Regions from separate parts of the Homo sapiens genome. Here all the other regions are reported to be linked to region 2. Evidence: microRNA targets listed by miRTarBase, many of them from high-throughput screens and not tested one by one. Region 2 holds a microRNA gene; each other region holds the end of a gene's coding sequence.
The links. Region 2 holds the annotated microRNA hsa-miR-424-5p (CAGCAGCAAUUCAUGUUUUGAA, at 4,679-4,700, opposite strand). A microRNA usually pairs through its seed, bases 2 to 8, with sites in the 3' UTR of a target mRNA and lowers its output. Matches are read on the target gene's strand: a 7mer-m8 pairs with bases 2 to 8, a 7mer-A1 pairs with bases 2 to 7 and ends in A, and an 8mer does both.

Region 1: the mRNA of NFIC is a reported target of hsa-miR-424-5p. Seed matches in the 3' UTR shown: 7mer-m8 at 3,053-3,059.
Region 3: miRTarBase lists BSPRY as a target of hsa-miR-424-5p. Seed matches in the 3' UTR shown: 7mer-m8 at 3,077-3,083.
Region 4: the mRNA of SOCS5 is a reported target of hsa-miR-424-5p. Seed matches in the 3' UTR shown: 8mer at 1,613-1,620.

What each region holds. Positions count from the first base shown.
Region 1 is chr19:3,460,080-3,468,191 of GRCh38, forward strand. It overlaps NFIC (nuclear factor I C), which reads left to right. Exons shown (of 11, transcript NM_001245002.2): 11 at 2,673-8,112. The coding sequence ends at 2,690. Among named protein-coding and RNA genes, the nearest start is that of SMIM24, 16 kb to the right of the region's middle. RefSeq lists enhancers at 2,460-2,995, 2,996-3,531, 5,113-5,613, 5,614-6,114 and silencers at 3,983-4,183, 7,692-7,986.
Region 2 is chrX:134,542,002-134,548,709 of GRCh38, forward strand. It overlaps MIR424 (microRNA 424), which reads right to left and starts at 4,710; the gene lies at 4,613-4,710. It overlaps MIR503HG (MIR503 host gene), which reads right to left and starts at 4,629. Exons shown (of 3, transcript NR_024607.1): 1 at 4,551-4,629; 2 at 2,713-2,796; 3 at 1,376-1,998. It overlaps MIR503 (microRNA 503), which reads right to left and starts at 4,397; the gene lies at 4,327-4,397.
Region 3 is chr9:113,367,424-113,374,748 of GRCh38, forward strand. BSPRY (B-box and SPRY domain containing) reads left to right here. Exons shown (of 6, transcript NM_017688.3): 5 at 836-960; 6 at 2,193-3,799. The coding sequence ends at 2,719. HDHD3 (haloacid dehalogenase like hydrolase domain containing 3) reads right to left here. Exons shown (of 3, transcript NM_001304509.2): 3 at 5,999-7,106. The coding sequence starts at 6,931. The coding sequence ends at 6,176. Among named protein-coding and RNA genes, the nearest start is that of HDHD3, 5.9 kb to the right of the region's middle. RefSeq lists enhancers at 1,995-2,495, 2,496-2,996.
Region 4 is chr2:46,759,827-46,767,881 of GRCh38, forward strand. SOCS5 (suppressor of cytokine signaling 5) reads left to right here. Exons shown (of 2, transcript NM_144949.3): 2 at 1-3,303. The coding sequence ends at 315. Among named protein-coding and RNA genes, the nearest start is that of LINC01118, 53 kb to the right of the region's middle.

The DNA.
Region 1 (8,112 bases), not on the chromosome of region 2:
GTGACCTTGGGTACAGCCCCATGCAGAACTCCCCTCCCTTAGCCTCGGTCTCCCGCCTCTGGGAGGTTGAGAGTCATCCTCAGCCCCCCTGTGCTTAGTGAGCTTCTGTGGAGCAAGAGGGGGCCATCCGGGGGACCTGTGACAGGATGGGCCCTGGACGCCCAGGACAGTGCTCAGAAGATGCCAAGGGGATTCCTGAGAGGCAGGCGAGGGGGTTGGCCCTGGGCAGGAGCAGAAATGAGAGCCAGAGCCAGACAGGCCTGAGTTCAAGTTCCACCTCTGCCGCTTCCATGCTGGTGACCTCGGGCAAGTTCCTTGACTTCTCTGGGCCTCACTTTCTTCACACAAAACAGCGGTGGAGGGAGACCTACCCCCTCCTTCACGGGGATACCGGGGACATCATTAAAGAGGAGAATTTTTTTTTGTTTTTTTTTGGTTTTTTTGGTTTTTGTTTTGAGACGGAGTCTTATGCTGCCCAGGCTGGAGTGCAATGGCACGATCTTGGCTGACTACAACCTCCGCCCCCTGGATTCAGACGATTCTGCTGCCTCAGCCTCCCGAGTAGCTGGGATTACAGGCACGTGCCACCACGCCTGGCTAATTTTTGTATTTTTAGTAGAGACAGGGTTTCACCATGTTGGCCAGGCTGGTCTCGAACCCCTGACCTCAGGTGATCCACCCACCTTGGTCTCCCAAAGTACTGGGATTACAGGCATGAGCCACCGAGCCCAGCCTCTTGTTTACTTTTTAAAAACATTCTCAAGGCCATGTGCAGTGGCTCATGCCTATAATCCCAGCACTTTGGGAGGCCAAAGCAAACGAATAAGCTGAGGTCAGGAGTTTGAGACCAGCCTGGCCAACATGGAGAAACCCCGTTTCTACCAAAAATACAAAAATTAGCTGGGTGTGATGGCGCATGCGTGTAATCCTAGCTACTCGGGAGGCTGAGGCAAGAAAATCACTTGAACCCGGGAGGCAGAGGTTGCAGTGAGCCAAGATCGTGCCACTGCACTCCAGCCTGGTGACAAGAGCGTGACGCTGTCTCAAAAAATCAACAAAAAACCTCTTTATAAAGTGAACAAGGCAGCTGATGTGGTGGCTCATGTCTGTAATCCTAGCACTTTGGGAGGAAGGAGTTCAAGGCCAGCCTGGTCTACATGGCGAAACCCCACCTCTACAAAAAAAAAAAAAAAACTAGTCAGATGTGGTGGAACATACCTGTGGTCCCAGCTACTCGGGAGGCTGAGGTGGGAGGATCACTTGAGCCCAGGAGATGGAGGCTGCAGTGAGCTATGATGGCACCACTGCACTCCAGCCTGGGCAACGGAGCAAGACCCTGTCTCAAAATAAAATAATAAATTGGCTGGCCACAGTGGCTCACGCCTGTAATCCCAGCACTTTGGGAGGCCAAGGTGGGCGGATCACTTGAGGCCAGGAATTCAAGACCAGCCCGGCCAACATGGCGAAACCCGGTCTCTACTAAGAATACAAAAATTAGCTGGGTGTGGTGGGGCGGGCCTGTAATCCCAGCTACTTGGGAGGCTAAGGCACAAGGATCACTTGAACCCAGGAAGCGGAGGTTGTAGAGAGCCAAGATCACACCACTGCATTCCAGCCTGGGCAACAGAGCAAGACTCTGTCTCATAAATAAATAATAAATAGAGAAGAAAATAATTTTTAAAATATAAAATAAAGGCCAGGCAGAGTGGCTCACGCCTGTAATCCCAGCACTTTGGGAGGCCGAGGCGGGCGGATCACGAGGTCAAGAGAGTGAGACCATCCTGGCCAACATGGTGAAACCCTGTCTCTACTAAAAATATAAAAATTAGCTGAGTGTGGTGGCATGCGCCTGTAATCCCAGCTACTCGGGAGGCTGAGGCAGGAGAATCACTTGAACCTGGGAGGCAGAGGTTGCAATGAGCCGAGATCATGCCACTGCACTCCAGCCTGGCAACAGAGCGAGACTCTGTCTCAATAAATAAATAAATAATATAATATAATAAAGTAAGATTGAGTTCCAGACTGGGAGTGCTGGCTCACACCTGTAATTCCAGCACTTTGGGAGGCCGAGGAAGGTGGATCACTTGAGGTCAGGCGTTTGAGACCAGCCTGGCCAACATGGTGAAACCCCATCTCTACTAAAAATACAAAAATTATCCAGGTGTGGCGGTGGACGCCTGTAATCCCAGCTACTCGGGAGGCTGAGGTAGGAGAATTGCTTGAACCCAGGAGGCAGAGGTTGTAGTGAGCCAATATCACGCCATTGCACTCCAGCCTGGGCAACAAGAGCGAAACTCCATCTCAAAAAATAAAATAATAAATAAAATATAAAATACAGTTCCAGATAAATGGATCTTTTGTGTGTGGTGTGTAAGTATATCCCCAATGTTGCGTGGGCTAGACTTATACTAAAAGAATTCTGTGTTAACCAGAACTCCAGTTTCACTGGGCATCCTGTACTGTGTCTGGAAGCCTCCCTCAGAGACAAAGTCACTTGCCATGGGTCACCCAGCAGGTTGTTAGAGCCTGGGATGGGGAAACTGAGGTCACAGGGTTGCAGGAGGTGGGGGGTGAGCGTGGGAAGAGGTAAACCATGTCTGCAGCAGAGTCTGACCCCTCGACTTCTCTCCCTTTTTCTCTCTCCCTCTTTCTGTCGCCACTGGGCCACTCAGTCCTGGTATCTGGGATAGCAAAGGTCTTCTTCCCTCGCCCCTTCTCCATCGTCCCAGGAATCCCAGGGGGCAGCACAGCCGGCCCCCGGCCCACGTTTTCGGTGGAAAATTAGAGTGAACAAGAACACCCCTGCCGACTCCCAGCCCGGCCAAAAAGACAAAACACATAGACGCACACACTCAGGAGGAAAAGAAAAAACAAAGGCAGAAGAAGAAGAAGAAGAAATAAAAACCCACCCAAGCAAGAAGACAAAAGGTAAAGACGCAACGTTTCCAACTCTCGGGACGCCAAGGCCGCAGGACTGGAGGGCCAGGCCCCGCCACCCCCACGGGAGACCCGGGACAGGGCGTCTTCCTAAGTTATTCATCTCCTCTCCGCCTGCTGCTCGGGAAGGACAGACGCCGGCCGCCCGCCCGCGCCCCGGAGGCCCTGGCTCTGTCCGGAGACCAGGTGAGCACAGCCTGGAGCCTGTGCCCAGGGCCGACAGGCGCGACACCCAGCAAGGCCACCTCTCCCCGGGCCCCCGCGCCTCTGCCGGACACGGACCGGCCCCTCAGCCCCCACCGAGGACGCAGCCACTGGGGGGAAAGGGAGACACAGCGGACCCCGGCCGGGCAGCGGAGACCGCAGAGGCGGGCAGGGTGGGGCAGGCGAGTGGTGTCGCGGGGGTGCGTGGCGCTTGCGAGCCCTGGCCAGGGGAGGAAGTGAGGCCCAGGCACCTGCTGCCCCTCGAGGGGGCCCTGCCTGCCGCGGGGCCTCCCCACAAGCCCCTCCCAAAGCGCCGGCCGACTCGCTGTCTCGCTGGGGACTCTTTCAGCCCTCGCGCCCGCCCGTTTGGGAGGAGAAGTCTCTATGCAATTGGCCCCGGCCCCTCCACCCCCCACCCCCGGCATAGGAGGCCCCCCCACCTCGCCCGGCTCACACCCCCAAAGGGAGGGACCCACATTGCACACACTGTAAGAAATGCACTTTCCGAGGAAGGGGATGGGGGAGCCCGGACACCCAGAGCTCCCCGAGTTGGGGGTGCCCGTCTGGAGCGCCCCCGTCAGCCCCTGGCGGTGGGAGGTGAGAGCGAGTGGTTTAAGTGCCTGATTACCACCACCCGCCCCCCCCTTTGTCCAGCTGGGACACGGAATGGCCGCGGGCCTCCTCCCCCTCCCCTCCAGCCTCTCCACCAGCCCCTCCAGTCAACCCTCATCGCCGTGCCCCCCCAGAGCTAGAGAGATGGGGCCCCTGCGTGGCCCGAGGGGCAGAGCTGGGCGTCACTTCGCAAGCGTCCTGCCCTGCCGGGGCGCGGGGGTGGGCTCTGGGGAAGCCGGTGCGCCCCCCACGCCTCCGCTGCCAGTGCCTTACATTCTGGAGCGACCCCCCTCCCTGGTGCCTCCCAGCGAAGGGGGACCGCCGTTTGCACTTTCATCGCCTACCCCGACGCGGGGCCCAGCTGCGGGACGTGCATCACGGCTGGGCCCCCAGAGGAGAGAGGAGGCCGACGCCAGCGGTCCCCGCTCGGAACGGGGAGGGTTTTCGGGGGGTTCGGCGTCGCACCTTGGGGCCCCCCGCAGCCGTGTAGGGGGCCTCCCATCTGCTAAGCGTTTTTCCGTTGAGCCGCTCCAAAAACACTAAGCTGGGGACGCCAGGTGCCCCCCCACCCCGGCTCCCTGGCCCTATCCACACCTCCACCCCCACCCCAGGATCGCCATCTTTAGGGGAGGCCTGGGAGGGGGTGTTAGGTGTTTTAGGGCCACCGAGCTCAAACACAAGGACCCCTCCCCGGCCCACCCAGCCCAGCCCCAACTGACCTCCATGCCTAGGGAAAAACTCCCCCCACCACTGCCCCCTCCCCCGACCCAGGCCAAAGCCAGGGCAGGTCTCCGGGTCTCACCTGCTCCTAGCCTCACCCCCCTGCCCCCGAAAACCAGACTCTCCTCCCAAACTAGCCTCAGGAGCTTGGCGAACCCGCTCGCTCCTAAAGAGAAAGACCCAGGACCCTCCCCCATCACCCCCAAGAGAGGTTCGCCATCCTCTGGCCTCGAGCCCTTGGTCCCTCCGTCCGTCTGTCCTCGGGGCCCGCTCCCCCGGTGGCCCTTGGGGATCAAAGCGTGGGCCGCTCTCCGGGAGGGCGGGCGGGGGAGGGGGTGGTCGGGTTGTGCCATTGGGGTGTCCGGAAGCTTCTCAGCCAGGGTGGGGGTCGTGGAGTGGGGGAGGGAGGCCAGCCGGGCTCCAGAGGGGTCAGGGCGCGACGAGAACCAACTCTTTACCTAACTTTGCATGGTGCTTAGTCAAGGACTCCTGCGACCTGGCTCCCGAGGTCAGCTGGCGGCGCTGACACACATGCATGGCAGACTATCCCTGGCTCTATCTCCCTGTTCCTCGCCCCCTCCACCCCCCACTTCCTCTTTAAAAAAAAAAAAAAAAAAAAAAAGATACAAGAAAAACCTTTAAAAAAATTCCATGTTTCCTAATTTGCACGAAATTTTCTACCACAAGATGTGCCTTGCCTTCCGAGAATAAGTATTACCTTTAAACAATATCAGCGCACACACATAGCTGCATGTTCTGCTCGTGTAGTTTAAAAAAAAAAAGACAAAACAGTGACATGAAATAAAAAATAAAAATTGAAAAGGGATGTATTTCTATTTGTAAAAAAAATAAAATAAAAAATAAGAAAGTGAGAATCTAAAAAAAAAAAAAAAAAAAAAAAAGGAAGAAAAACCACGCTAAAAATCAAGCCACTGAAAACAATTGCCCCCAGGTCTACCCAGCCCCTGGCTGTCCTTGGTCCTGTCTCCCCTCCTGCTGTATTCAGGGGTGCCCCCTGGTGCTCAGCCTCTACCACCCCCAACCCTGCTCTTGGGTACCCAGAGGGGTCATTTCTGAATCCCTTGCCCAGAGGACAGACCTCCGGGGCCCATCTTGGCCCTGGGAAAGGGCTCTCCTCTCTGATTGGTCCCTAGGCCACGGGCCGGCCCCCAGACACCATTCACCGACCCACTGCAGGCTGTCCTCCAACCATGGGGTGGCCACTCCACCCGCAGCCAGACTCCCCGCTCCCCACTTTTCATGCAGGCTGGCATACCCCTGGCTCAGGGTCAAATGCTGTTCCACACCCACCTCAGAGGCACCCCCTCTCCCCTGCCCCGTGCATCCCCACCCTTCTTGCCAAAGGACCTCTTTTCCCCTATCCAGAGACCACCCCAGGTGGCATTCTCTCCCACCTTCTCCTTTGTCCCCCATCCCCTGTCTCTGTCTTCCAGCTGTGAATATGAAGGGTATCCTGTATGAAACAAAAACAAAACCTGATATATGCAATATCTGTCTGTCTGTCTGTACCCATGGGCCTGGCTCAGCCATTGGAGGCCCAGCCGAGGGTCCGGCAGGGCACAGGGACAGCCAGGTGGCACCGAGTCACAGGCTGTGGTCCGGTGGCTGAGCATGCTGTTGTCTTGTCCTTGATTTTATTTTCTTTTGTTCTTTTTTTTTTTCTTTTCTTTTTGTTTTTAACTCCAGCTTCCTTTGCTTTTTACTTGACCAAAGCTAAGACAATAGCCAGATGGTTAGTGGGGCAGCCAGGCAGGGAGGACCCAGGGCTGGGATTCTCCAACCTTAGGCCATTCCTGCAGCCCTCACCACCTCCAGCCCCTCCAAGCATCTCGTGTAGGGACCCACGCAGATGGTCCCATTCATTCACTATTGCCCCCAACCCCGGGATTTTGGGTGGTCTCCACAGCCACCATCATACACTCATCCCGTGTTTTCTTCCAAAAAGTCACCTCAGCAGCCTCCCCAGGCGATACAGAGGGAGAGCCCAGACCACCACAGCTGGCCACGACATTGCCCTTAAGTAATATGCATTGGCCAGAGAGCCCGGGCTGGCTGTGCACAGCATTCATGTAGCTGATTTCTAGCTTTTTTTTTTTTTCTGCCCCACTCCTGAGCAAATCTGTCTTGCCAAGGAACTAGGAGCAACCGGAGGCAAAGGGAGTGGGTGGCCCCATCACTATTGGGACCATCGCGTCCCTGCACAGCCCACACCCGGGGGCCCAGAGTCCTGGGCTGGACGCCACCCTTCTCACCCCGAGCTTGCCTCCTTGGCTCACTTGGCACCTTGGCTGAGTACAGCAGGCAAAAGCCCATACCAGGCAGCATGTTGTGGATGGTTTAGTTCTCCCCGCCTCCCTGTTTCTTGGAAAAGCTACAGGGTCCCTGTAGGGCAAAATTCCCAGGCGCCTTGCTGCAGACAGAGTAAGACAAAAACACCAGGAAGCAGGATTCCGTGCCCATCTCTGCAGTTTGGGTTCACAAAAGGGGGTGCCGTCATCCCTGGGTGGAGGAGGGAGTGTTGGTTTTTTGTTTTTGTTTTTTTAACATGTATGAAACTGACATCTTCTCAAATCTTGTTCCACCCCCCTCTGGAAGCCCCCATCACCCACCCCTGCTATGGACACCACACCTATGCCAGGCCCCCCCCCCCACCCCAGTCTCATTCTGGGGTCTGCCCATGCTGTGGGAAAGAATAGGGAGGCCTCCCAAATATATGCAAATTGTCCCCATTCCGTGGGGGCACCTGACAATGACCCGGGTGGAGATGGGGCATGGAGGAGTAGGAAGACCCAGCCCTATTTGACTGGGGAGAGGAGGATCTGGAGTCCTTCATGCCCAGGTCTGGAACCCAGGTTCTGACCCCAGGGCCCCACCCTGGGCTGGACAATCAGATCCCAAAGGAATGCCAAAGGGGACTCGGTTGGGAGAGCCGCTTAGGGGCCAGACCTGGGTCCCCCTGCAGGTCCCCAGGCAGCAGACAATTCCACCTTCCCTGCCCCAGGACCTTGAGAGACAGCAGCATTCCAGGCACAGACAGACTTGGCTGCACCCCACTGTCCCTTGCAAGACAGGTTCTGGAGCCAGGAGCAACTGTCCAGCCCTCCAGAAGAGACAGCAAGCAGCCCCCCTACCCACTCTGGCCTCCCCAATGGTACTTTGACCTCCAGTGTAGGGCTATACTATACATATATATATATATATATATATATATATATAATTTTGGAATTTGTTTCTCATAATACAGAATATATAGTGGCTACCTTGTATCTTGGTCTGGATTCTCTCTCTGAGACCCCGGATTTTACTTTCTCTTTGGAGGGCGCTGGGACATACATCTCTCAATCCAGCTTCCTCCGCATCCTCCCATCTTGCCCCATTTCTGCCACGTCAGACACTTCCTGAGAGTCTCACCTTCAAAATGACACCGCTGCCCATCCATTGCTCAATGGTACAGAGTGTGGGGTCAGTCCACCACCCTTGACCTCCCGGCAGGGCAAGGTGAGGAGGCGGACCCAAAGCAGTACCAGCAGGACTTGTTGCCAGTGATACCAAAACAGACTTTTCCCAAGCAGTGCCTCACATGTCTGCTGGTGTGGCTTTGGGATTCTCCTGCCCCAC
Region 2 (6,708 bases):
AATCCTGGGGCCAATCTTGGGCCTCACCCAGGAAGTGTCCAATGTATAGGCCAAAGCTCATCATAAGACTAGCCAGTTTCACCGGGAATTTTTGTAACCAAACACATTCACCTCCATTTCCTGCTCTGGTCACTACTGCATAGTCGGTTCTGATGAACAGGTAATGACATAAGGAACACAGTATGAGGCCTGGAGGAAGAGCCCCCAGAGAGTAGCCTCAGACAAATCCTTAACCTCCAGAGGCCCCAGTTTTCTTGTCTGTAATTATTTTTTGGACTGCCTTAACTCTGTTTGTCTTTCAAGGTTGTCACAAATTAAAAAAAGAAAAAAAAGAAAAAACAAAGTATTTGGAAAAGTATGTAAACACACGATACAAAGGCAAGATGTTGGGATACTGATGATTCTGTGGCCACGCCTTTAGAAGGTCTGGTCTTAGGGTAATAGTCTTGTCTGGATGGCAGGTGGGGGTGGACATGGGGGAACAGGTGAGGGAGCTGCCTTGGGAGACTCAGGCTTCAAAGCAACCCAGACTCTCACTGGCAGGTTGCTGCAGTGTTCTGAGCTCCCTGACTCCAGCAGTGGAGCCAAGGCCATGTTTCCAAACACCCACCAACTGCTCAGATTATAGAGCTCAGTAGTGGAAGGGGGAGTGCTCAAAGGCCCAAGCAACCACAGGAAGTGGAAGTCTTTCGGGGCTCCTCCCTCTTGGCTCAATTTACTATCCCCACAGGGGTTTTAAGCCTGGCTGAACTTGCCAAAGAGATCAGCTGTGGAGCTGGGGAGGAGGGAAAAGGTGGCAGATAGGTGAAATATTATGAAAGAGCTAGCCGATCCTTGTTTATTCACTGAGGAGTAACTAATGGGTGGGCCTGAGTGGGATGTAGGGGGGCAGGGAGATACACGTTTGCTACACTTGATGTATATATACTCTTTTTTGCTTAAGAGTCATGTAATAACTCTAAATACAAATGCATATATAAAATTCTAGGGTTATGAGATTAAGTCATACTGCAGGCCAATGGGAAAAAAGATCTCTAAAAACATATGCCAACTTGCATATAGCCAGACTCAAGTCTTTTAACTTCTATCGATAAACTCATTGATCTTCCCCAAACATATTTTTTGAACCTAGTTTTATTTTCATCTTACACAGCCTCAGGAAAGCTGCCTATAACTCCCATCTCATAGGCTCAGGTTTTCTGCAAATGTTGCCCTGAGCTCTATAGCAGTCCAGGATTCAGGGAACGAACCCAGTCCCCCGCTGCCCCATTTGCCTTGATGAGTTGATAGGTATGGTGTTTTAAAACAATCAGCAAAACAATTTGCACTGCAGAGTCCTTAGGAGTTTTTTTTTTAATTGGACAGTTGCCCATATTAACGGAAATCAAAAGCAGCATACAGTCATTCAATGTCCCAGCACTGGAGTACAGCCCACTGTTTTCCTGTGTGGGGTTCCACTTTAGTTCTTGTCTGTGTGCATGCATACATTTTTACAGAGTTGTGACCACTGCCTTTTTCTGTGACCCTGGTTATTGACATCTAGTTTTCCAAGTAACATTGACACACATCTGTTCAAATCAGTTGAGGTTCCCATCATGACTGACTCATTTGGCGGGAAAACCAAATTTACATGCCAATTGGAACAAAGAAGTGTGGGTATGGGGGAACAGCGGGGGGAAAGAAATGGTGGGAGAGGATTCCTTGGACTTACAGATCATAAAACATTTCCCAATAACATTTTTAAAGGATGTATAATATTACACTGAGTGATTGATTATATATTACCCTTCTATTTGGGACACTTGGGTGGTTTTCAATGCCTAGAGTTTTAAAATGCATATAAATTACAGCCTTTGAGAGATGATTGTATTTTCTTGAAACAGGAGTCTTCTGTGTCCAGGTCCCCGCCAACAGTGTTGATGTAGTGTTCCTTTGTTGGGGGGAAAAAAAATCAGTACTGCTAACTGGAGATGCTGGATGCCTTCAAGAAAAACATTCCTGTGATTTAAATTTTTAAAAAATTATGTTCAATTCTGGTTTATCAAACAACCTGGGTATCTTGTCTCACAACTTACCGAAATGTCGAATTTTAGATTTAGAGTTAGACTAAGCTCTTCCTAGTTTAAGGGCCACGTCTGTCTAATAAACTTTATACAATGCCACGTGCACGCAGCTTCCTCACTAACAAATAACATGTGTTGGGGAAAAAATGAGAAAATAGTGGAAAGGTGCCTCCTTGGAGGTGGTAACATCGGGTCAATTAATCAGCTGAGTATAAATTGATTCACTTTATACAAGTCTCCCACACATTATGATGCACATTTAGCAACGCTGAAAAACAATTTAAAAGAATACCTTAGGGAGTTGTTAAAGAGAATTTATAGTCTGGAACGAATTGCAATCTTCTTAATTGACACAGAAATGTTTGGCTAAAATATTGCTTTATTCACATTTTTGTCCTTGGAGGAAAATCTAGGCACACTGCAACTTGGATCGTGTAAATAAAGGTACAAGGAATGTTTTAAGTCAGAAAAGGGCATCACGCAGTCAGGGGGCTGTGTGGACGAGCTCAATTTCGATGCATCTCGGGAGACCCGGGCAAAAGGCCGCTTGGATTCCGGGAGGCAACGCCCCCAAGTCAGGATCCCTTGCTCGCCGCCCCCAACCGGTCAGGATCCCTGGCTCGCGTCCCCAACCGGTTCCGTGTCTCACCTGGGTCCTGCAGGCGTCCACTGGAGGAAGCCGGATGGCGCGGGCTTGGTCTTTCAGGAAGGCTGGCTGGCACCGGGCTTCCTTCTGGCTCCAGGGGGAACCGTACAGGACGGGGAGAAAGGGGGAAGCTGGTGAGAGGCAGAAGGGGCGTCACAAGGTGGCTCTCCCACCCCCAAGTGCAAAGGCAGGCGGATGCGGGGACCTGTTCGCCGTTTGAGCCTGGAGATTGCGGGCCTGAGGGGCCCTGCGCTGGCCGGCCGGGGCGAGGCGGGAGCAGAATGGGGATTTCTAGGCCGCCGGGTCGGGCTGGTGGGCGGCGCCCCGGGAGCCTGAGGGTCCCCGCCGGCCCGGGAGGGACCCGAGCCGCCCCCGCGCACTGCCCCGGCGCAAGGGAGTCTGGGAGAGCCAGCGTCTCGGGCCGCTGAACCCGACTCCCAGCTCTAGACTTCGGAACCCCGGCCCCACCCCAAACTGGGAAACTTCTAGGGGCCCACTCCTGGCCCCGGGAAGCCCAGTTCCAGGCAGCCCATTCAGACCAGAGGAGTTTGGGTGTCTTTTTTTTTTCTTTAAGGTGACAAAAAGTGTGGGAAAGATTCCACACCTCCCTCCCCACGCCCGCCAATGGTCCTTTACCTGTCCATGTTTCAGATTAAATAATTAGCTCAAGAGATTTGCACAGAAAGCGAATTAGCCCTTTTCTAGTCAGACTGTTAAGCTCTCAGGCGGGCAACTCGGAACCCCGTTTCCTCACCGAAGGCTCAGGAGGCCAGCCCAGTGAGGGATGGAGGTGGCTTTAGAGGGCGACAGTTGTGCAGCACTCATGAGCAACAGTGCCCAGGACTTTTGAAGTCACGAAGGGCTCCTGAAATCGACAGCTCAGGTCCCGCCCCTGGGGCGACAAAGGAGTCTTGGGGGCGTGCCGCCGGGTTGGAATTGTGGTAGCAGATTTTTGGGGGAGGAGGGCGCAAAGCAGCTAGAAACGCACATCCTCATTCTGGAACTATCCCAAGGCCCCCATGCTTCTCAGCAGGCCTCGGGCTCAGATTGGGCGGGTTGGAGCCTTCCACCCCACCTTGGGTTCACCCGCCCGCAAGGCCTCGCGCCTCACCCGATCCTTCTAGAGTGCTGGAGCTCCACGGAGCCTCCCTAACCCCCCAGCAGCGGGGAAGGGAGGGCGAGGGAGTGGGGAAGAGGCCCGTTATTTTGATCTTTCCTGAATTCTTAAGTCCCTTCCATACCCAGGACATGAGCGCGTTTACCAGGAACCGCAGAGAGGTGTAAAGACTTCTTGCAGCTGCTCACCCTTCCTCTCCCCTTACTCCTTTTCCAGTCCTCCCCACCCCCCAGCATTTCGTGGGTGGGGACTGAAGATAGGTTTTCTTCGTTGTCCTGTGGGTGGTATTCTGATTGGGAAGGGATTTTTTTCAATTGTTTACATTCTACCTGAGCAGGGAAAGGGGGTGCCAAAATGAAGCATCATTCACGTCCAGTCACATATGCAGAGACGGGGCAAACGTTTGATGCAATCTTGGGTCTCGCTGCTCCCGGGGCCGACACCGCAGGCGATGGCCTAAGACTTACCTGCTGGGTAGGCCCGAACGGCAGTCCCAGACTTACCCTGGCAGCGGAAACAATACCCCAGAGCACCGATCGCTCACTGCAGAACTGTTCCCGCTGCTAGGGCACGGCTGAGCGCGGGCACCGCGTCTCTCCTCGACTCGCACCGCCTATGCGCCCCAGCCTAGCCAGGAATACTGCCCTCCCCGGACTACAGCCCTGCTGCGTGGACAAGGGCGAGGACCCGCCGGAAACAGAGACGCGAGCCCCCGCCCACCTACCTGCTCCTGAGCCGGCCTCGCGGGGAGCGGGCACCTGGTGGCAGGAACACGCGTCCGGCAGACCCCACCTTCTACCTTCCCCACGAGGGGGTATAGCAGCGCCTCACGTTTTGAACCATTTAGAACACTTCAAAACATGAATTGCTGCTGTATCCCCTCGGAGTCAATGAAGGGGGATCGATCTGGGGGTACCTGCGGGTGAATAAAGACTGGATGACTGAAGGAAGCCCCGCCCCACCCCCTGGCAAGGAATAGGGCAAAACTTATGACTAGGCCACTTCACTCCAAGTTAAGGTACTTCTTATAACTTCACCATTTGATTTCCAGGAGCTGCAGGTGGAGCCGAAAGTGTGGCTCTCAATTTTTTCCCCTGAGGATGAATCTTGGAACAACGTAGTGGGTGAAAAGCAGAGCGATGGGGGATACGAATTAGTGTGGAAGAGAATCTAATTACTTCTGAAGGTAGACGAATAAGGTTAAGTAGAGGCAATTGGACATCTGGATCATTCTTGCCAGTTTCAAAGTCTTGGTGAAACTTCTTCCTGCTGCATATTACAAGTCTCATTCATTGTCCCCATTAAAAAAAAACAAAAAACGAAACAAAAAAACAACCTTTATTGGAAATGGACTCAGATGACTGAAAGAAAATAACCAAAACCTCACCGGTAGCTTCAGCTGATTCTTACACTATCGTTGCGACATATACATCTATCTTTAAAAGCATTAGATGTCCTAACTCACTGCTAGTGTTTTTATTCTTAAACACCCCAGCTGAGTTATTTTAAAGAGCTCCAAACAATGACAGAGAACTTTCTGTAGATGAAATACCAGTTTACATATTAAACTGGTTACTCAAACTTATTTATAATTTATACCTATCAATGTCATCTATCAAAACATAAATCAAAAAGTTTAAATACTTGATGTCAAGTCGCTCCTTCCTGTTTCAAGCAGCTCCACAGAAACTTTCATGTCCTGAAATGGCCGGCACTGCGCATACTCCTTAATGATTAACTCATTAGATACCACTTTTTCCTTTTTAAAATGGACACATATTAGCAACAAGTCACATGCATGCCCTCTTTTTGTTTGAATACAATATTCAATTAAGCATTAAAAAAAAAACCCACTCTGAAATCCTCAATCACAAACCTAAAAGTTAAAACAACAAAATCAGCACTAACTGTAATGGTTTTGAAAGTTAAATACATTTCAGCACAAGTAATAGACATTTAAATTATCCAACTGTAAGTATCTTGTTACACTTACAAATTAAGTCGGTTTTTCAAAACCAGTACAATGAATGTTAAGTGTCCTATTTATTAGTTAATAAAATGTGCAGAGTATTTAATAAGATTAAGTATCGAATTTATAACATCCAGACTGAGATCCAGTGGTAACAAATACACTATGTCATGGTAAAAAAAAAAAGTCATTAGTAACAATAACCCCATTCCCTAAATTGCGACAATCAAGTATCTCTACATTCCATCTTGTTTTGGCAATGATATTTACAAACAACTTTTACACTGACTTTGGGATTAATGGAGAAAAATGTCGTTGACTGCCCTTAAAAAGAAAAAAAAAACATGTTTAGCAAATGTACAATTATCATGTAAAACTCCACAACTTTCTCCCAACATTTTGTTCCACACAAATATACGAGCCATCATGTCAGAAGTTAAAGTCATGCCTAATTTAACATTTCCTTAGTTGACTACTTAGAAAAACAAAAGTTCATTCGAAACAGCATCGGTGTCAAAGGCGAAGGTCCCTTCCAGATTGCTCTTGGAATCAAATTCATTTATACCTTTCACCCTAACCCCTTTCATCTCTCCCAGTGATAGTACAACGAGTTACACCCCTAAAAAGCCACCTCGATCCCCTAGTTTACATATTTCCCCTTAGACTGAAATTTACTTACGAAAAGAGATTACAAAGGGGCGTCTTGTCACTTCAGGAGAGGGTCATTCACTGATACAATAGACAAAGAATCGATACTTTCGAGTTGCCATAGCCCCACCCCCTTCTGAACTGCAATGTGTTTGGCTAAATGATTTAAGAGCCAAAGAATACGCCTCTTCCTCTGTTCATACTCTACAACGTTTTGTCTTTTAATTTTGCATATGCCTTCGTCCCCCACACCCCAAACACACGA
Region 3 (7,325 bases), not on the chromosome of region 2:
CTGATGGCCCTTTCCTCTGTGGACCCCTCAGGTGTTTGCATTTTTAAAGTAGAGGAGTGGCTGTACCTTCTGACAAAACCCAGGGAAACATGACTGCCCCAACAGGTCTGAGAGGGAGGTGAGATATTTTCCAGGCAAGGGCAAGATGTTGGAGTAGAAAGACTATCGTGCAGGGGTTCCAGAGGCCCAGGAGGTCTTAGCCCCAGCTCTGCCATTAACTTACTGAGGGACTCTGGCAAGTTGCTTCCTCTGCAGAGCACACCACCTTCAATTTCTAATACTGGCACCAAGAACACATCTTCCTATAAACTGTCCACCAGCTTTGCTAAAATTAAGGCTTCTGGGGGGCACAGGGGAAATGGCCACCTTCCCTTTTGGCCCAAGCACCTGTGTGGGGCCTGGATGCCACTCTTTTTTTTTTTTTTGAGACAGGGTCTCACTCTGTCACCCAGGCTGGAGTGCAGTGGCATGATCTTGGCTCACTGCAGCCTCGAACTCCTGGGCTTAAGCAATCTTCCCACCTCAGCCTCCCAGGTAGCTGGGACTACAGGTGCATGCCACCACACCCAGCTAATTTTTAAATTTTTTGTAGAGATGGAGTCTTATTATGTTGCCCATGCTGGTCTCAAACTCCTGGGCTCAAGTGATCCTCTCCCACATCAGGCCTTCCAAAGTGCTAGGGTCACAGGGGTGAGCCACTGCACCTGGCCCTAGCTGCCAATCTTGGTATCGCCTGATAGGAGATTTTACTTCTGTTCTTCTCTTCACCCCATATTGATCCAGATATATTTCCAGAACCATCCTGAATCTCTGTCTCTGTTTTTCCCCATATAAGGACCGAAGAAGCAGAGGGCATTTTGGATCCCCAGGAGTCGGAAATGTTAAACTTTAATGAGAAGTGCACTCGGAGCCCACTACTGACCCAACTCTGGGCAACGGCGGTTCTTGGGTCTCTCTCAGGTTAGGAGCAGTAGAGCCCAGGACCATTAGGACAACTGGGCTTCTGTCTGTCTGTCTGGGGTTCACTCCTGGTTCACAATGGGGACCCGTGCTTCTGAGATGATAGCTTAAACAAGTCATGCTGGATGCAGGCTGGTCAGTAGGGTCAAGGTTCCAGACAGGCCTGGGGCAGCTGGGCCAAGTCCTTCCCATTTCCGGACTAACATGTTCTGTGGTTGGGTCAAAGATAAATCTCATTCCTATAAGTCATGTCTTCCTTATATCCTGACCTACTAGGGCAGCCCAGTATTATTTATTGGAAACCTGGGGTTTCTCTTTAAGAAGATAAAATTGATGGCCAACTGAAGAACATCTGGACCAAGAATCAAACTGCCTGATTTGCCTCACTTATTCACTTTACACACACTGACTCAGGCCAACTGTGGGCCCCACCCTGTGCCACATGCTGGGGCCACAGAGGTAAACTGACATGGTCTTCTGCCTCCAGGAATTCCCATTTAGCACAGAGGTTCTCCAGAGCAGGCCTCCTCCAAGTTAGATGGAAGCTTCCATTCTCCCAATGGTAGTCTTTCACAATTCGTGGAACAGTTAGGTTAATAGACTGATTTTTTTTTTTTTTCAGTTTTAATCCTCCCTCCTCGTATTATCCTTACAATTTTGGTAGAAGCTGTAGCTTCTCTACTCTAGATTCTGGTATCAAATGATGCCTGATTTACCAGCAGTTTAGATATTTGCTAGAAATTGCTTATCTCATGCTTCCTAGCTCCCAGAGGCTGTGTTTCTAGGACACGTCCAATCTGGAGGCCACAGATATGACCAAGTAGAAAGAGTATAATCAGTGCTACGTATAGGAACAAAATGTTTTGTCTTCATTTTGCCCCTCCCACCAAGTCAGTGTGTAAACTTGGGCAACTCCCTTTTTCTCTCTGGGCCTTATTTCTATCAGAGTTTACAGTTGAGGGTCTTGACTGATAGTAACTATTGTTATGAAGGCTACAGTTTATAGAGCACTTACATGCTGGGCACTTTACATGTATGATTCTGTTTAATTCTCGTGATCACCCAGTGAGAAGTCCTATTTTGACCCCCGTTTTGCAGACAAGGCTCAGAGAGAGTAAATGGCTTATATGAGGTCACCATGCTAGTGAGTGGTGAGGAACCTTTTGCTACCTGGCAGGACCAGGTTAGGGCAGGGGTGGGCCCTCGGCAACTCTGAGAATTCTTTCTGGCAGGCACAGAGGACATACGGATCGATGAGAGGACAGTCAGCCCCTTCCTGCAATTGTCAGATGATCGAAAGACCCTGACCTTCAGCACCAAGAAGTCAAAGGCCTGTGCAGATGGCCCGGAGCGCTTCGACCACTGGCCCAATGCCCTGGCTGCCACCTCCTTCCAGAATGGGCTCCATGCCTGGATGGTGAATGTCCAGAACAGTTGTGCCTATAAGGTGGGCGTGGCTTCAGGCCACCTGCCCCGCAAGGGTTCTGGCAGTGACTGCCGTCTGGGCCACAATGCCTTCTCCTGGGTCTTCTCTCGCTATGATCAGGAGTTTCGTTTCTCACACAATGGGCAGCACGAGCCCCTGGGGCTGCTGCGGGGCCCAGCCCAGCTGGGTGTAGTGCTGGACTTGCAGGTTCAGGAGCTGCTCTTCTATGAGCCAGCCTCCGGCACAGTGCTCTGTGCCCATCATGTGTCCTTCCCGGGGCCCCTCTTCCCAGTCTTTGCTGTGGCCGATCAGACCATTTCTATCGTCCGCTGACCTCTGGCCACAGGAAGCCAGGTCCACCGCCCACCACCCTTTCAGGCCATGTTTCTACTCAGTGTGCTTTTCCCAAATGATGTGTGTGGTGTTTCTAAGAGAAACAGGGCCCATAACCAGTGGGCAGCTTTAGGAGGGATGGGGATCTGTTTCAGATCTAGGCATAACCTGTAAATCACAGGTGTCCAAACTTTTGGCTTCCCTGGGCCACATTTGAAGAAGAATTTTCTTGGGCCACATAAAATACACTAACGATAGCTGATGAGCTAAAAAAAAAAAAAAAGTCTGTGTATAATTTTTGTGATATCTGCCACCACAGATAAGCAAAAAAGTCCTTGCATTCAAAGGGTTGGAGATTGCTGCTTTGAGTGCTGGGTACCTGTGGGGAACCTACTACTCCCTGGGCCTTAGTCTCCCAAATCCACCATGCATCTGCCCCTCTGAGGGTGTCTTCACTTTGTCTCTGGCATCTAGCATGGTGCCTGGTGCATAGTGAGCATGCAATAAATATTTGGCAGGTGAGTGGATGGATAGATGGATAGGTGAATGTAGGTGGACAGGTGACTGGGTGGATGTTGTGGTCTCTGGAGAAGCACTGCCATTCAGCCTCCTGCTCCAGCTGTTCACATGCAGAAATGCTCTCTTCACAGGCAGAGAAGCCTGTGGCTAAAGTTTCCACATCCCATTAACTCAGTGCTTTTGTCTTTTTCATGACATGGCACATAGAGAAAATATTTTTTTCTAGCACACAAGAGCAACCTGAAAGGCTGCTCCTGGCCAGAGGACTCTGTCCCGGGGGACCGTGTCCTCCCCCATGTCCTGCCTAGGCCCTCAGAGGACCAGGGGATCATGTCTCCAGGTAACCCGACTGTAGCCCCTGCTGGCTGAGCTCCAGCCTGTGCCCACTGATAATAGCAGGGACGGCCTTTTCTCTTAGAGCAGCTGATAAGTTTCCCTACCTGATGGCCCCCTCTGACATAAACTGCACACCTGGGGTGATGGCTTAAAGCCAGAAAGAGCTGAGGGAGTTAAGAGGGCCAACCTTAGGGCACGTGGGCATTATTAAAGGTCTTAAAAGCATTGAAGATTTATTCCATGTTCTTTGTTGATAATTGGGTGTATACTGTACGCTGGCCTGTCTTCATACCCTTATTGCATTCTCGGAAATAAGTGGGTCGCAGCTCAGTGTAGCGGAAAGAGCCTGGAGACATTACCAAGACCCAAGGCAAGTCCCTTTATGTTTGTCTCCATGAGGAGTTCACCCTAGAACAGTGGTCTTCAAACTTTTGTCCAGGAACTCTCTTCAAAAGTAATCTTACCTACAACTTTAGGCTCCTGCGTCCAAAGAAGATGAAAGGCAGAGCCCTCCCCACTTTCTTTGGGAGCTGCAGAGCAGTTTGAAAACCACTGTTTATTAATTTTTTTTTTGAGACAGAGTCTCAAAGGGATGCTGAGGCAGGTGGATCACCTGAGGTCAGGAGTTTGAGACCAGCCTGGCCAATGTGGTGAAACCCCATCTCTACTAAAAATACAAAAAATTAGCTGGGCATAATGGTGCACACCTGTGATCTCAGCCACTCGGGATACTGAGGCAGGAGAATTGCTTGAACCTGGGAGGCGGAGGTTGCAGTGAGCCGAGATCGCAACACTGCACTCTAGCCTGGGCAACAGAGCGAGACTCCATCTCAAAAAAAAAAAAAACAACGAAATTACTGTTGCCTGGCCTTGGTGCCAGTCCCAAGGAAAACAGACCAAAAGGGGTTTGGTCAAGTCCCAAAGAGATCTTCCCTGCCTTTGCCTGGGCACAGCCCCTGCTCAAAAATCTGGGTCAAAGCCAAGGCTTTTCTTGGCACCTGAAGGCCCCCATGCCATTTTCTCCCAATCCACCAACCCAGCTCCTCACAGCAGCCTTCATTCCACAGTTCATCGGCCTGCTGCAGCAATGTCCTCCTCATCCCCCTGCTCATCTAAAGCCACCCCCAATGCCACTACTGAATTCAGCATCCATTCTAGAGCCCTCCCTAGCTGCTGGCACCAGAACACACTGCCAGCCTGTGTTTTTAATGTGTGGTATCCTCTGGCACTGGGCAAGGAACACAGATGTCCAGCAAATACCAAGTAGAACGGTGTGGGAAGGTGGGGAGGCAGGAGAACTTTTTGTTGTTTTGTTTTTAGAGACAGGGTTTCACTCTGTTGCCCAGGCTGAAGTGCAGTGGCACGTAGCTTACTGTAACAGAACTTGTGGGCTCAAGCGATCCTCCTGCCTCAGTCTTCCGAGTGGCTGGGATTAAATGTGTGTGCCAGCACACCAGGCTAGTTTTTACATTTTTTGAAGAGATGGGGTTTCACCATGTTGCCCAGGCTAGTCTCGAACTCTGGGCTCAAGTGATCCTCCTGCCTCAGCCTCCTAAAGTGAAAAAAGGAATTGAAAAACCCAACCTACTTCAACCTCCAGTTCTTCCCCCCTCCCTCCAAACCTATTCCCTACACTGCAGTCCTTGTTCCCCATACTTTCCTACCTCCACACTGGTCTCTGCGACTGGGGTGCCCTTTGAGATTGATATTCTTTAGGACACCTCCCCTATTCTCCCAGAATCTCCACTGTACCACGTTTCACATGACAAGCATCCTCATCTACTTACAACCTAGTGGTCAAGCCAATGGGCTTTGGATTCAGATGTGCCTAAATGGAATCCTGGTGTCTTTGCATGCTAGCTGTGACCTCGGGCAGGCTGCTTAACCTCTGAATTTCAGTTTCCTCATTTGTAAAGTTGTGGAGGGGGTCAAACCACCTAGGCCCAACGAGGTAGCTTTGAGGGTTATATGTGCATGGAGGTAACTCAGCACCTTACCTAACACGGGGCAGGCATATGTCAACAGGATTTCTTCTCATGACTGTCATGGGGTTCCTTGTTTAAATTCTCCCCTTCATACTATGTGGTGCTAATGGACAGTGTCCCTACAGAATGGCTTAGCATCCTGCTTTTCAAACTAAGCACTGACCCCAGGCTTCCAGAGGGTATTTTCAGAAGCTGAAAGAGAGACCTTAGCACCTCTGCTTCAACTCCAGCAGTTTTTCAGGGTCTGTTTTTAGTTTTGCATAATGGGGTTTCAGATCGCCCATAACTAAAGGACTCTGCTGCTAAAACCAAGTTTGAAAGTGCCTGGTTTTGAAGCTAGTGGGGCCCTCTGTGAATCCTTTGGATGTGAAGTCGACTCCTAGTGGAAAAGGGACACAGGTGTGAATGAGAATGAGGGAGGGCAGAGGCTAGGAGCTGGTTAGTGGGGGAAGGGTGAGAGCTCAGCACTCACTGCTTTATTATCACAGTAGGTGACAAAGGCCGCAGGGAGAGGGGGAAAGGTCCAGAGCTGTGGAGAAAGAAGGGGCTCCCTGTCTCCAGGGTTTGTTTAAGGTTTTCTCCATGGCCTAGGGCCCAGCCACTTCCCTCACTGGCCTCAAAGCCCTGGAGTTGAGCCCTCTAGGCAGTCAAGGGCAGGCAGGAGATGGGCCAGAGAGGGGAGGATGTGTTCTTTAGGTACAGAATCCCTGACCACGGGGTCCAGTGCCTGTGGGCCAACCACCAGGAAGCTGTGCATGCCCACAGCCCGAGGCCCCTGGTAATCGCAGAGGTAATTATCCCCAACATGGGCTGCCACTACTGGTTCCATATGAGCAAGCCGCAAGGCCTCCTGGAAAATGCGGGGGTCCGGCTTGGGCCAGCCAGCAGCCTCGGAGGTCAGCACAAAGTCGAAGTGTTCACGCAGGCCAAGGCCCCCCAGGATGCCCTCTAGCCGTCGGTCAAAGTTGGAGATCACTGCCAGTCTCAGACCCCGTGTGCGGCACTCCCTCAGGGTGTCCTCAGCCCCATCCAACACCTGCCAGGTGCAGGGGTGGCTGAAGTCTTTATAAAGCTGTTCAGCGATGGGGGCTACAGCCTGAGCATCCTGGACACCCGCCAGGTGGAAGGTCTGCAGGACCACATCCAGCCACCACTGGCGGGAGGTTAGGCCGTGGCTCAGGCCGTAGTTGGGGAAGCTGTGGCTCTGAGCCCTGTATGCCTGCCTGAAGCCTTGTTCCAGGGCTGAGGGCTCCACCTCCAGCCCATGGGCCCGGGCCTTGGTGGCATAGGCCTCCCCTAAGGGGTGGCGGAGCCTGAGCAGCGTGTCCTTCACATCCCACGTCAGCAGTCGTATCTGCAGCCGGTGTGCCATGGAGGAGGCCAAGTCCACCCCAGTTCTGCCTCAGGTCCCACGGTGGGTCCCAGGGGAAGCTGAGCTGGATAAGACCACCTCTGCGCAACCTAACAATCACCTCTTTCCAGGCCTTGTGGGTCAGATTTGCTGGCTAACATGAAGCACTTGGGAAATGTCTTCACAGCACAAGATCCTAGAATGAAAAATAGCAGGTAAGGTGGAAGCTCAGGCCCTGACATCAGACAGACTGGGTTCAAATTCTGGTGCTGCCAATGGTGTGACCCTAGGAAAGTCACTCTGAATCCACAACAAATTTCTGAGCACCTTTTTGAGCTAGCTGCTAGCATATGGGATAGATTTCCAGCCCTTAGGGCATTTACAGGCACTGAAGAACAGGGATACGGATATTAGG
Region 4 (8,055 bases), not on the chromosome of region 2:
TGGAATCACAACTTTAGTTTCGACGCCCATGACCCGTGTGTATTTCACTCCTCCACTGTAACGGGACTTTTAGAACATTATAAAGATCCCAGTTCGTGCATGTTTTTTGAACCATTGCTTACTATATCACTAAATAGGACTTTCCCTTTTAGCCTGCAGTATATCTGTCGCGCGGTAATCTGCAGGTGCACTACGTATGATGGAATTGATGGGCTCCCTCTACCCTCAATGTTACAGGATTTTTTAAAAGAGTATCATTATAAACAAAAAGTTAGAGTTCGCTGGTTGGAACGAGAACCAGTCAAGGCAAAGTAAACTCTCCGGTCCCCAAAGGTTGTTAACTAGGTCCGCTTTCATGTGCATCAGACAGTACACCTATAGCAAGCACACGTAGCAGTGTTAGGCTTTTTCATACAGTATGTAAGCTTAGTGTTAGTATCTGTCAGATGCTACCTGCTGTTACTTATTCAGATAAACATGGTGCCTATTGGAACAATAGCGGATAGAGCTACAGGTGTTCAGTAAGACTACAAAAACATTTTGCCTATTTCGCTAACAGTTTGGTTTTTAATGGCTGTGGTATTTGAGTGAGGCAACTCTGGGGCATTTGTTATGAAGAATTCTATTTCTTACTGAAGAACAAATTATTAATATTGGATGAGTATTTCAACAGTGTGACTAATGTTTGAAATTATTTTTTCTAAGAGTTTTTCTATAACCTTCCAAAAGTCGTGATGTTTGTAGTTACTATAAATCAAGCTTTGGAAGTCCAAAAAGAATAAAAGACTGCCTTCCTTTTAGAAAAAAATGCAATTTTCTGGCCACAAGGGCATAGTGCAGTTCACTTACGTGTTGATGTAGTTTATAATCAGACGCCTTTTCTCTTCTGCAAAAGGTACTGTTAAGTAAACCAGATTTTCTAAATAGGCATTCTTAAAATTTCAGACTTACAAAGCTAGTAGTAGAATTTTATTGAAAGGCCTAGGTATTAATTTTTTAAATGAGTGCTTTAACTTAAAACAGGCGTTTGGAATAGCTGCTGCAATGTAGTCTTGTGTGTGATTTTTTTTTAAGTTGATGTGCAGTCTAATTGTTGTTTCATAAAAGTTGGATCTGTTCCTATGCCCAGGATGATTTTGTGAACCGTGAAGTACGTGAGACTAGAAGACGCCCAAACAAGTCAGATAATAGTAACTACAATGGTTGCTGATGTTGAGATTATTGTTGAACTATAATTAATAATTTGGATGGCAGAATTTATCTCTTTTTTGTAAACTCTCATAACTGAATTGCTTAAGTATAATTTATAGAATTTCAGTGCAGTTCATTCTTAATGGAAAATCTGAAACCTAAATTGCAGATTTAAAAGGTACTGTACAACCATTATATCTGTAAATAACTTAGCACCTTTTTGTCACTTAGAATAATATGTACTACTACTTGAGTGAGCGCTTTTGGAAGTTATATCAAGTTCTAGTGTTTGCTTCTTAGTAACTGAACTGAATTTACAGTTCTGTCCTAGACATTTTGCACTAAAGTAGCCGAATCCACTCTCATGTCTTTTCGTTAATGTGCTCTGTACCACTGGTGAGTGCTCCATAGTTTCCTTACCTGCTGCTACAGAATGTTATTTTACATCCCTATGGCTATTGCCAAGGCTACAAAAAAGGAAAGCTATATTTGTATGCAACACTAACCTTTTGACTGCTAATGTATGTTTCTGCTTGCTGTGCCTTGTTATGGCTGCTTTTTTTGTGCTAATAAAGTATGTTTGGTGTTCTCCTTGTATATCTGCTGTTTTATACATTTGCAACAATTTCTCTTGTAAATGGAATGGTTTGGGGTTTTTAAATAAGCATTAACTAACAACCTTTCTATAGTTAATGCAGAGTTAATGAACAGTCTAATATTGACTTATCAGAATAAGCTAACTCTAAATTTAATGCTCTACATCTTATCAGTCATAATTATATATACTGTGGAACAGTATCTGTAGTTACTGCAAATTACTGTACAGTTTAGGTTATAACAGAAAACTGACAGAGAAGTAATAAACCTATTGATTTCTCTGCTTATAAATGAAAGATTGAAACTATCCAATGACATATTATAGTAAATGAGTATCTGTAACCTCCCACTGCATCAGAAGCAGGTTAAATGAAGTCTTGTGAATTTGTAATAGATCAGTACCATTTATTGGTTTGGGGACCATCTTAATTAAAAATAAATGCCCAAAATGTAGAACTTTAACCAAAGACTTGTCCCTTTTAAAGCAAAATGGGGATTGAAGGGACTTATAATTTCTGTTGTTTCTAATTAAAGTCCCTGAAGATCATATACCAAAGTGTTTGAGAACTTCATCCAAACCTACTTTAAAGCATTATGTGCAATTAAGTTGTTATGACATAATTATATTGCCTAATTGTTGGGTCTTTTTTCTTGAGCTTATAATGTACCTGGAAAATAAACCTCTTGAGAAAAAGAAAAGTTCATACTGATTATTGGAAAAGGACTATATATGTGAGCAAGATTGTGTTTTAGAGAGGAAACTTGAAACTCCAAGAAAGCACTTGATGTTTTTATATGCTTGTAGCAAATTGATGTTCTAACTGTAGTTTTATAGAAAGTATTAATGCTTTTATGTATTTCAAAACTTTCATATGTTAAATGGAAATTGTTTTAAATGTGTTTGAGTTTATGTAAGCATGTATACACTGTGCTAAAAGTCACATGTTTCAGTTTGTGTATAATATTAATATGCAATTTTTGGTTTAAATTTTTGTCTTAAAATATTAGTGGCTTACATTTTAAAAAAGAAAAATCACCAGCATGAACTTGCACCTAAGTCTATATTCACTGTGTCCTTTTCTGAATCCCATTGTAGCCTGTCAACTAAATTTGAGTGTTAACGGTCTTTTTAAAGTGCATTTAAATACAAACCAGGAATTTCTTTAGAAGTTGAGATACATCTTTATAGTTGAAATAATTAACCCAAGAAAAGGTTGCTTTGATTTGTACCCATTCTCATTCATTTTCTTCATTCCCTTACACACACACACACACCTCTCCCTTCCGCATACATATAAGTGTGTATTATATATTTATGTATGCACATATATACATTTATGTTGTTAATATTACTTTAGATGGCATTTCCACCTGATACAAAAACATTTAGAGATCTTATTCTATAGATATTACCTAAAGAGTATTCTTGTACTATTCGAATTTTATTATCTGCACTAAAAGTTTAGCCTTGCTACTTTAGCCTTGTTTATAATACAGTCACCTTACAAAGAGAAAGAGTTCATCTGTATTTTGTTTTCTGGCTAAACACAGTACAAAATATTTGAAGAAAAACAGCTTGGATTAAATAGTTACTAAGAGTTATAATTAAATTTATGTTTCTTAGACAAAACTTGAGCCCAAATAATCATTCTCCACACACCAGGCTGTTTTTAGCTCTTATGTTTACGTAAGATTTATAATGGCTAGAACCGTAAGAACTGATACTTGAATTTTAAGCTTCATTTGACAAAATCGAAAGCTTAAGAATTTTTTTATTTCACATTTTGATCTGGTTGCTATTTATGTTTATTTCAAAGCTTGCTTTTCTCTCTGGCACTGAACACTAATTTGGTGAGTTTTATTGAGACTGGTCTTAGATCTCTTATTTTTATAGCAAATACTGCTTTTTGGTAGAGCCAAAGAGCCTGTGAGTGAATCAGGACCCTCCTTTTTTTTTGTTTTTTTTTTTGTTTTGTTTTGTTTTTGCGACAAGAGTCTCACTCTTGTCACCCAGGCTGGAGTGCAGTGGCCCGATCTTGGCTTACTGCAACCTCTGCCTCCCAGGTTCAAGTGATTCTCCTGCCTCAGCCTCCTGAGTAGCTGGGATTACAGGCGCCCACCACCACGCCCGGCTAATTTTTGTATTTTTAGTAGTGACGGGGTTTCACCATGTCAGCCAGGCTGGTCTCGAACTCCTGACCGCAGGTGATCCACCCACAGCCTCCCAAAGTGCTAGGATTACAGGCATGAGCCACCGCGCCTGGCCATAGGACCCTCCTAAGAAGGATGCAGAGCCAGGTCTGTCTTTGAGAGTGTTAACATAGAGCAAATAGCACCAGTTTGTTTGCTTACCTGTACCCCAGCACATACAGTTTTACTTTGATGAAATTAGATAGAAATGCATAGCAAGGGCTGACTCAAGGGTGAGAAAGTTTCGAAAGAGGGCAATGCTGCTTGGCCCGTGTGCATACAAGCTACATATTTTTGAGGCTCTGGTTTTGTTTTATAATTTTGCAACAGCTGATCCAGAACATAGGCTTTTAAAATAGTATATTCTAAAGAGGTTTGGGGTGGAATTTTTGTGGGAGGTAGCTGGTTATTTGTGGGGGACGGGAGGAGAGGTTGCTATTGCAAAGTATAGATGAGTTGGAGCAACTGTTTTGTTTTCATGCCCTGGACGCTTGATTGAACATTGAGACTCTCTTCAGCCATGCAGTCAACAAATATTTATTGAAGACCCGTGTGCCACTCACTATTTTCAGTAATGGGTGTACATTGGGGTATAAGACAAAGCTTTACTGCCTTCCAGAGTTTATTGAATTCTAGTAGATAAGACAGCAATGAAATGGTAATTTCCGAAGCTATGAGTAAAATGAGGCAGAACATGGTGGTGGAGGGACTGGGGCACAATTTTATAGGGTCGTAACCTTGAATGATATAAGAAAATTAGACCAAGACCAAAGAACAAACGTTCGAGATGAAGAGAACAATAAAACTAGTCCCCAAAGCACATATGGAATTACTCGCTGAGAAAGAAAGAATGCCAGTAAGGTAAGTCCATTGAGTGTGGAGAATAGTAGGTGATGAGGTTTTAGAGATTGGCAAGGGCCTGACCATTTAGGGCTATAAGCCTATAGTGAGGGATTTAAGATGTTGTTTTGAGTGTGATGGGAAGCCATTGGAGAGTTTTAAGCAAAGGAGATGTGTGGTGTGTTGTAAATTTCTCTGGTCAGTGGAGAAAAGACTAGTGGAACAAGGTAAGGAAGACTTTTACAGTCATCCAGGTGAGAGATGGTGGGACCTTGGACTAGGGTGATAGTCATGGGGAGAAGTCAGAATTGGGGTATGTTTTAGTGGTAAAGCTGATAAGACTTGGCGATGGATTAGATGTGAACAAGAAGAAAAAGATCAAAAGATGACTCCAGTTTTTGGTGTGAGAAGGGTGATTGAGTTTTGAGATTCCTATTAATAATTCTAACAGAGACATTGCATAGTAGGCAGTTGGATATATGAGTGTAGTGTTAAGGGGAGAAAATTAAAATGTGGAATCACTAGGCCAGGCATGGTGGCTCACACCTGTAACCCCAGCACTTTTGGGAGGCCAAGGCAGAAGAATCACTTGAGCCCCGGATTTTGAGACCAGCTGGGGCAATGTAGCAAGACCCCATCTCTACAAAATAAAAATTAGCTGGGTGGGTTGGCATGCGCCTGTAGTCTCAGCTACTTGAGAGGCTGAGGCAGGAGGATCACTTGAGACAGAGCCAGTTCCTTCCTCTAAAAAAATACTAAAAATGAAATGGGGAGTCACTGTATTGATAGTATTTGAAGCCACAGAACAGTATGCAACAGCTAGGGATTTTGCATGGGATTAAGAATTTCTTTGGAGGAAATAATTACGACAACATTTCTCTTAGTTTGTCAGTTCAAGATTCTGTATCATTAGTTGTTTTTAAAAGCCATCTGCTTTCGATAGAGGACTTGTCTTCCAAAAACTTTTAAGATACTGGAATCAAACCTTGCGCTGAATCTTCATACTACCCACATCAAATTTGGTTGTCATGCTTTCCATGTCAAATTTGCTTGTGTATCTTTTTTAGTTTGAGTTTTTATATGATAAATCAAAGTTCATTATGGAATATTCAAGAAGTACTAAAGATTATAAAAGAACCTACGAAAAAATGTTCATACTGTTGACTGAATATTTAGACTCTGACCATTCATTCCACAAATATTAATTTGAAGACCCATGTGCCAGTCACAGTTTTAGGTAATGGGTATATATTGAGGTACATTACTACCACCAACACTACCCCTGCCCTTTCCAACTCCCGTTTTGAAATTTTCCAGAGGTAACTGCTATTAATATTTGGTACATTCTCTTTCATATTTTTTCATGTATTTTTGACAGTTAAAAAAAATCACATGAAAGATAAAGTTGTACATCTTGAGTCAGTTACTGAAGGGTTTTTTTGAAATAGGATTTCAGTAGAAGATTAAGACCCTTAGTTGACTAAGTTTATAAACTGGTGGGGATGTAGGCAATTATGTAAATGTATAGTTATGAGAATATGTGGAAATAAAGTAATTAAGTAAAAACTGGTTTCACTGGTGATAAGGAAAAAACAGAAAAGTGACCCAAGTGGAGTAGGGTTGATTGGGAAGGTATTGGGTTTCTTTTATCACGAGAATGAGAATTTCATTTAGCAGAAGATGATGGAGAGGCCAGGTGCAGAAGTAGAGTGGCAGGTAGCAACAGAAGAGGAGCAGGATTGAGGTGGAGGAATCAGGTGATTGTAGCATACACTGGACTGAACAGTGTGAAATTATCTAGGCTCTGCAGCAAGGAAGAATTAGAAATTATGGCAGCAGGTGTAAGATAGCGTATAACCAAGAGGGATTGGAGTTAGGAAGTCCTGTGAAATTTGCCTAGATCAGGTCGCTAGCACTGGAATCAAACAGGAGCACATGCAGAAGAAAAATCAGCATAATTTTCAGTAAGGAAAAACAAGCAGTTCGCATGCCTAGGAGACTTCTAGTTAAATATGTCATAGTTTCTCCAAATTTAAGCAAATCATAAGCCAACAGTAAAGTAAATCGTAAACTTACAGTAAAGTAAAACATGTATATTGGATATTATGGATATCCAATTATGGATAACATTTTAGAATACATTTTAATGCAAAAAATAAATATTTGATCAAATAAGGAAAACTTCATCACTACTAACTGCTTACATGGAGAAAATAGGATGACTTTTCTATGGATAACATTTTAATTATGGATAACTTTTTAAAAGGCACATTTTAATGCAAAAAATATAAGATTTGATCAAATAAGGAAAACTATCACTGCTAACTATGCTTACGTGAGAAAATAGGAACATAAAAAAAAAGCAACATCAAAAAAACTTTTACTTGACAAAAGTGCTGAGAAAAAGTGGCACAATCTTAAATCTTAAGAGAGAGTTACTGAATTTAATCCCCAAAACACTATTATAATTGTAGTTTTTCTCATTTCTCAATTTTACTAAGTATGAAAACTGCTTTGAATTTTTTTAAAATTTATTTTTATTTTTGTTTTTTTTTTTGGAGACAGAGTCTCCCTCTGTCACCCACACTGGAGCGCAGTGGCATGATCTCGGCTCACTGCAACCTTTGCCTCCCGGGTTCAAGCAATTCTCGTGCCTCAGCCTCCCGAGTAGCTGGGATTGCAGGTGTGCGCCACCACGCCCGACTAATTTTCGTATTTTTAGTAGAAATGGGGTTTCTCTATGTTGGCCAGGCTGGTCTTGAACTCCTGACCTCAGGTGACCCGCCCACTTTGGCCTCCCAAAGTGCTGGGATTACAGGTGTCAGCCACTGTGCCAGCCCTTATATTGTCTTTGTTACCTGGCTTAGAGGGGTTAGATAACTTGTCTAAGGCCATAGAGAATGTTAGACCTAGTTTTCAAACACTGGTCTGAGGCCAGAGCCTAAGTGCTGATCCACTATACTTTGCTCTTTGAATTCTAATTGTATCAACCAAATTAACATTTCTTTCAATGTTTTGTTCTCTTTTATTGTATTTCAAAACAATAGGCTATACATAACTGATAAAAAATGGATTCTAAACCATTGGTAAAAGAACTGAAAGAACTGGCCACTAGAATCTCCTTCATTCATCTTCTGCAGTTTATTTGGGGAGTGCCCCTGCCGATTTCTCCAACCTTAATCTAGTACAACTATCCCCCTTACTCACCACTCTCCTGACACTGGCCGCCTTTCAAAG